Linked DNA regions of Homo sapiens. Changing the gene in region 1 together with any one later gene gives a genetic interaction. Each region holds a gene or a part of one and is shown in the gene's direction. Other genes may lie near its edges.

Region 1 (3,818 bases):
TGGCAAGGCTGGTCTCGAACTCCTGACCTCAGGTGACCTGCCCACTTTGGCCTCCCAAAGTGCTGTATTACAGGCGTGAGCCACTGCGCCCGGCCTCAAATTTTGTTTTTTTTCAGTTTAATTAAATTGCTAAACTCTTCTGTCATTATTTTTAAAAACATTGCTCCTATCCTTTTCTCTCTTTCCTCCTCTTCTATCAGTTATTCATATATTTAAACCTTTTGATATTGTTCCATAAGACATTGAGTTTCTGTTCTCTTTTTTCTTTATTTTCTTCAGATTGGATCTTTTTTTTTTTTTCCCGAGATGGAGTCTCACTTTGTTGCCCAGACTGGAGTGCAGTGGTACAATCTCGGCTCACTGCAACCTCTGCCTCCCATGTTCAATAAATTCTCCTGCCTCAGCCTCCTGAGGAGCTGGGATTACAGGCACACACCACCATGCCCAGCTAATTTTTGTGTTTTAGTAGAGATACGGTTTCACCATGTTGGCCTGGCTGGTCTCAAACTCCTGACCTGAAGTGATCTGCCTGCCTCAGCCTCCCAAAATGCTGGGGTTACAGGTGTGAGCCACTGCACCTGGCCCAGATTGGATTATTTTTATTGACCTATTATCACAGTCACTTTTTATTCTGTCTTCTACTGAATTTTTGCTTACAGTCATGTGCCCTTAACGACAGGGATACCTTCGAAGAAGTGAGTCATATGTGATTTTGTCGTAGTGTGAACATCATAGAGTGAACTTACACAAACCTAGATGGCAGAGACTACTACACACCTAGTATATGGTATAGCCTGTTGCTCCTAGGCTACAAACCTGGGTGGCATGTAACTGTACTGTGTACTGTCTACAGTTGTAAGACAATGGCAAGGATTTGTGTAGCTAAACATAGAAAAGGTACAGTAAAAATATGGGATCACCATAGTATATATGCCATCCTGCATTGACTAAAACATTGTTATGCAGTGCATGCCTGTATTTTTCAAGTCCAGCACTTCTACTTGTTTCTTTTTTTTTTCTTTTTTTTTTTTTTGAGACAGGGTATCGCTCTGTCACCCAGGCTGGAGTGCAGTGGCACGATCTTGGCTCACTGCAACCTCTGCCTCCCCAGTTCAAGCAATTTTCCTGCCTCTACCTCCTGAGTAGCTGAGATTACAGGCATGTGCCACCATGCCCAGCTAATTTTTTGTATTTTTAGTAGAGGCAGGGTTTTATCATGTTGGCCAGGCTGGTCTCAAACTCCTGACCTCAAATGATCTGCCTGCCTCAGCCTCCCAAAGTGCTGGGATTACAGGCATGAGCCATTGCGCCTGGCCTGACTTGTTTCTTTTTTTATAGTTTCTTTCTTCTCTAAGATTTCTTATCTTCATTCATTGTGGGCATGTTTTCCTTTATATTTTGAACATAGTTTTATATGATGGGTGTTGTAAAATCATTATCTGCAGATTCCAATGTCTGGGTCATCTTAGTATCAGTCTCTTTGAGTATAAGTCAAGTTTCACCATTTCTTTGTATGCCCAGTAATATCGGATTGTATTATGAACATTGCGAGGAGTATGTTTTAAACCCTGGATCCTGTTAGGGTCCTCTGAAGAGGATTGGTTTTGTTTGTTTTTAGTGTGGTGTTTGGCCTTCAATTACATTTTAATTTTTTTCATTTTATGTCTTTCCTTCTTAATACACAGTCCATCACCTGGTTCAGTGCATGTCACCAAAAATTCTCCAGGGGAAGAGGATTGGTTTTTAGTTTTCACTGGTACTTAACTTGGTGAACGTGGCAGTTGAAGTACATTCTTCAGCCTTAGGTGGGCTGCTGTGATCTGTCCCATGCATGCATAGTTCAGGAGTCCACCAAAGATTCGGACCCAATTTATATGCTGAATTTAAGGGTCTCCCTTTGTGGTTCTCTCATTTCTGAAATGTTCCCCCTTCCCAATTGTTGTCATGCTCAGAACTCTATTTCTTGGTTCTTCAAGCCAGTAAGATTGTGGGTTTCTATCTAAGTTGTAGCTGCCACACTGGGCCATAAGGCAAAAATAAATACATAAATACTTAAAAACCTGGAAATTCACCCAGTGTGTTCCTTTTGTCCAAGTAAAAATTCTTCTCAGCTTCTGACAGCTTTTGGTTACTCTCCAGTGCTGTATGTGTAGTTGGGGGTCTGCGTCTCATACTTATGTGTTGAGGGTGGTCTAGTAAGAGTAGCCCTTTATTACTGGAAGCTCTAAGTCTATAATTTTTTTAAAAATTTCACTTGTATGTATTTATATTTTAAAATCATTTTGTCGTGAAATGATTCTCTGTACTGTGAGGTAGTACACAGAGGAATCTCACCCCATGCTCCACTACTTAGAATTAAATACATATTCCGCTGTAAGAAAGTAATCTAATTACGTAATAATTCCTATCCCCTTTTCTTCCCCGAGTAGTGATAGCCTGTAATTTGCGTACTTCCTTTCTGTCCCCTTCTAAAGCTTTTATTACATCATACATGTATCCATAAACTAAGTATAGAATTGTTTGGGGTGTGTTGCAAATACACATAAATCGTATCATATTAAATGTCAGTCTGCACTTTCTCCCACTCAGCATGGTTTTCCTGGTCTGGTCACGTTGATACATTTAGGTTTACTTCATTTTCACAGCTTATGTATTAGTCTAAAGTAAGCATAACTACCATGACTATTTATTTGTTCATTTTCCTCTGATGGATATTTAGTTGTTTCCAGTGTTGCGTATCACACCTATAATCAAGATGAAAGCAGCAGAAAATGCTAAGATGTTTTTTCTCCATGTAGGTAAGCAAACTATGGGCTTTCCACTTCTCACTTATCAAGACCGATCGGATAACAAACTGTATCGTCTTCAGACTCCTCAGAGTCCCTTGGTGAGACCCTCCATGTATGATTATTATGACATGGATAACTATCCAATTGGGACCAATGCCATCGTTGCTGTGATTTCTTACACTGGCTATGATATGGAAGATGCCATGGTAAGTTTTACCAGGAAATGTTGTTCCAATCTTTTTATTTTTTAACTTGTTTGTTTACTGTGAAATCACTGAAGGAATATTTTTGTGTACCCAAGTACCTAGTATTTGGCACGTGATGTTCTATTAAATGATTAGTTCTTAGTCTAAGTTGAAAGTGGGCAAGCCTTGAGGAATATCCACTAAATATTCAGATACACGTATGTCTTGCATATTTGAGTGCATATTATGAGTAAATTTTGAAGTTTGGTTTTGGATCTATCTACCTTTTATATTTAAGTATGATTAGATTTTAAGCTATTTCTGTGTGCCTGGGTTTTTGTTTTTCTTGTTTTTTGTTTGTTTGTTTTTTGTTTTTTATTTTTGAGACGGAGTCTCGCTCTGTTGCCCAGGCTGGAGTGCAGTGGCACGATCTTGGCTCACTGCAACCTCCACCTTCTGGGTTCAAGCAGTTCTCCTGCCTCAGCCTCTCGAATAGCTGGGACTACAGGCACCCATCACCATGCCTGGCTAATTTTCGTGTTTTTAGTAGAGATGGGGTTTCACCATGTTGGCCAGGCTGGTCTCGAACTCCTGACCTCAAGTGATCCACCTGCCTTGGCCTCCCAAAGTGCTGGAATTACAGGCGTGAGCCACCGTGCCCAGCCATGTCTGGGTTTTTGTAGTTAGTATCAGTGATTTGGAAAATGTGAGGAAAGTTAAAATGTGATGCCAGTTATCCTAAACCAAGTATGATAGTCCCACCTAGTTTTATTTTGAAAATCCTCAATTGGCCTCAGTCTTTTAACGATTCTTTTACTTCACAGATTGTGAATAAGGCCTCTTG
Region 2 (3,818 bases), on another chromosome or scaffold:
GCCTACATTACTTACCTTTAACTTTAAAAAATGGATGGATATTGGTTTAATGTCCGACCTACCTAGTATAAACTTTTCTACTTAGCAGTAGTTTCTAGTTTCTTCTTTTTACCCCAAGGTTAATCAGTTTTGAACAGCTACTGATAGTATTGGTTTGATCTTCTACAGCAGCAAAGAACAGTCACTTGAGATCTGTGGCCTAGGTTTGACCTATTCCTCAGGGCTCCACTGACCTTGAAGGCCTTGTTTGATCAGTGCTGGCATTGACCTAGAAACTTCAGTTGTCTTCCTCCTTTATGGACTTGTCAAGCCCTTCCTGCAGTTGATCATTCTGGGCAGTTAACTTGAGTTGAAGTCGTATATAAAATGCCTTATTCTGAAGTAGAGCTTAGACCCTTAGATAACCACCCATTTTCTTTTAGATGTGTCTAGAGAAGATCTTGTTAAACTCAGCAACAAAAGCCCTATAATTATTTTGTTAGCTGGATTCCAGCAGGCATAACATAGCTTGCTGGGTGGCATAGCCCTATGACAGCTTGTACTAAAACAGACCCAAACGTGTTCTATCAGGAAATCCTTAGATCTCCATCCAAAATGCAATCGGCACTACACTAGAAAACTTGCTTGTCTCTCTTGGATTCTATAAGACCTATAGGACATTTTCTCCTTAGAAGTTTAAGATTGGAATCTACTCTGGCAATGTGGTGGCCTGGAGGCATATGTGCAAAGGGCAATTAATTATTTGTTTAAAATGAAGTGCCATGTATTTATAGGCACAAAAGAGGTTTTACATTAAAAAGTTAAGTCTCCTTTCTAACCCTTCTACTTTCCTTACTCAAACCTTTAGAGGTTGCCAGTGATACCATGGTCTTGGGTATCTTTCCGGATATATTCAGTGTACACATAGCCTGTACAGTTACATTTAAACATATGGTAGCATGCATATATTCATACTGTTCTGCGCTTTAAAAAATAACTTAATGGTCAGCCTTGGTCATTACTCAATATTTACAGAACTCATTCATTATTTTTGTGGTTACATACTATCCCATTATTTGGACATAAAATAATTTATTTAGCCAATCTTCACTGATGGAAATTTAGGTTGTTTCCAACCTTATACTATTAAAATAATATGTTAATAATCATTTGTATGAATTTTATTTACTACATATGTGACTATATCCATAAGGTAAATTATTAGAAGTAACATTTCTGGATCCAAGGTGTGTGCATTTTAAATTTTGATAGTTTTTGCCAACCTGCTCTTCAGGGATCTTATGCTAATTTTAACTCCCCTGCCCCAGCAATGTATGAGAGTGCCTGCTTGTTTTATCCATGTCTTTGTCTATACATTCCCTTTCATACTTTTTGATCTTTGCCAATCTGATAGGTAAAAAATGTTATCACAGTTTTTAATTTGCATTTTTCTTATGGCTAACATTGAACATATTTTTATCTACATGTATTTCCTCTTTAGTAAACTATCTGTGTATCCTTTGCTCATTTTCTTATTGGGCTATTGGACCCCTTCCTGTTGATTTGGTGGAACTATTTATATTTTGAGGAAATTAAAGCTATTTTATATTGAAAAAATTAGTTCTTTTCTATGATATGAGCTACAAATGCTTTTTCACATTTTGATATGTCTTTTGACTTTATGGTGTTAAGAATTCGTTGCATGCCGTAGAATTTACCAGTCTTTTATGACTTCTGGGTTTTTATCATATTAAAAAATATGTGTTCTCCTATATTTTCATCTAGCATATTTGGGGTTTTTTTCTCATTTAAATATTTCTTATTTTGGTCTTAGGTGAAGGGCATTCTATTTAGATAACTGGAAGAGTTTTGGCTGTGAGGAAGTATTCTCTTTATAATGAAAGTTGTTTGGGTTATAACAGCTGGACATTTCTTATTAATTATTCTTCTACAGTGACAGAGTGAAGCATCATGCTTTGTGGTGAATGGACAGCAAGGAGACCTAATAGCTGAAGTGTAGTTGGACTTGGAGCAATTTTAAGTTACAAGACTACTGGCAGTTTCAGAGGGCCAGGTCAAGACTGGCCAAGTTGCCAGAAATTAGTTTTTCGGGCAGTAGTAAAGACCACTTCAAAGGCAGTCTCAGCATGGTCAAAGCTCCAAGAAGAGAGCATTAACAGAGGTGATTTTAGCATTTGGAGAACTCCAGATGAGCTATGGTGTTCATGAAGATCTTGAGTTGTTTGTGGACTTCTCTCCTGAGGTAGCTGCAGATTACCTGATTGACTCTGTTCATTGAGTTCAAAAGAGGGTCTCCAAGGAATTGAGTGCAGTGGTTCTCAACTCTGGCTGCTGTGCTGGAATCTGCTAGGTAGATTCTGACTTAATTGGTCTGAGGTGAGACACCAGCAACAGTTTGAAAACTCCACAGGTGGTTCTAATGTGCAGCTTGGATTGAGAACCATTGTTAATGTAGTCAGTTTGCTGTCTCTTTGAGTCAGGGATTGCAGTACATGCCTCAGTGCTTCCAAAATGTGCATACATATCACCTGGGGATTATGTTTTAAATGCAGAATCAGGAGGTCTGGGGTGAGGCTTGAGATTCTGCCTGTCTGTCTTAATGAGCTCGCAGCTTATGCTGTGGCTGGTCCCCAGACCACACTTGAGTGGCTTGAGTTTGTTACTTGAAGTGCAAAGCACTGGCCCACACCAGTCCACGAGAGTCAATAAGCCATGGTCCTGCTCTCTTGCAGAATTTGCTTAGTGTACTACAAAGAATACTCAGGTCAAGAGATCCGCTTTCCACTTCCTGCTCTGCCTCCAACTAATTAGTGTAAGACAAGTTTCTTAGAAGTGCTTTAGTCCTTCACCCTCTTATCTCTAAAATGAGAGGCTTGAATTGGATAAACTTGAAGGTTCCCTTTGTTTTTAAATCCTCTCATGCTTGTCCAGGATGTTTTCAGACTCTTTCTGGATCAGGTTGTTATGTGGGATGGAATCTGGATCCTGTAAAGACCTTGTCATCCCTTAGAGGATGGAGGCCTAGGCCCTGAGCTTATGATCTAGTGGGAGAAATAAAACTAACAAATGTTAAAAAATTAAAGAAGAGTTAAATGTTCAAGTGTAAGCTATGATAAGTACAAAAAGAATGCAGGGAAGCTAGAGAGGAGTGTTAATTGGAATGGTCAGGAAAACTTCATTGCCAAGGGGGAATTTGAGTTGACATCGTTTTTTCCTGGGCTGGGTGGACTGCAGGGCTGACAAGAGTGGTGGTTCTCCTGCTTTTGAGTTTGCTTGTCTCTAAAAAAGCATCCTTCAACAGTGAAGCACAAAACATATTTTTCTGCCTTAAATTAAAACAAAGTAGAAGAAACATCTAGTTCTGTGGAAGTCTTTAAAGGGAAATCAAAATCCAAAAAACTCTATATTTAATTTTTCAAGGCTAATCTTGACTGAGAAGATTGATACTGAAAAAAAATCACCACTACCAAATATAGAGCAAAAAACCCAGCGTACTTCCGTATCGATAATAAAAAAATGGTATTAGAAATTACCTAAAATGTAAGTAAATTCCTCAAATTATAAGTATTATTGAAAGTGACATATCTCTTTATCTTAACTAATTGGGAAAGAGACCAGATAATTTATTTAGATTTTATAACATAGGTGCACACGAATTTTTGACTCACCTCTTTTAATGTCAAAGGAGATGTATTTTGCATTGTTATTAGAATTTTACTAAATTTTATGTTCCCTTAAGAGGAGGTTATGTGACCAGGGCTCAGGTATTGAAAAATACAAAATAGAGCAGTTACCCTCATTTAATGAGCTATATTTAG

The links. A genetic interaction does not mean that the proteins touch.
Region 2: of POLR1B (region 1) and ATG10, changing one suppresses a phenotype caused by changing the other (phenotypic suppression), as found in Homo sapiens cells (one large-scale study listed by BioGRID).

What each region holds. Positions count from the first base shown.
Region 1 is NC_000002.12:112,569,764-112,573,581, forward strand, and holds part of POLR1B (DNA-directed RNA polymerase I subunit RPA2), read left to right. Parts: intron 1-2,798; coding exon 2,799-2,995; intron 2,996-3,798; coding exon 3,799-3,818. UniProt on the Homo sapiens protein: Catalytic core component of RNA polymerase I (Pol I), a DNA-dependent RNA polymerase which synthesizes ribosomal RNA precursors using the four ribonucleoside triphosphates as substrates.
Region 2 is NC_000005.10:82,051,795-82,055,612, forward strand, and holds part of ATG10 (ubiquitin-like-conjugating enzyme ATG10), read left to right. Parts: intron 1-3,437; exon of another isoform or gene 3,438-3,540; intron 3,541-3,818. UniProt on the Homo sapiens protein: E2-like enzyme involved in autophagy. Acts as an E2-like enzyme that catalyzes the conjugation of ATG12 to ATG5. ATG12 conjugation to ATG5 is required for autophagy. Likely serves as an ATG5-recognition molecule. Not involved in ATG12 conjugation to ATG3.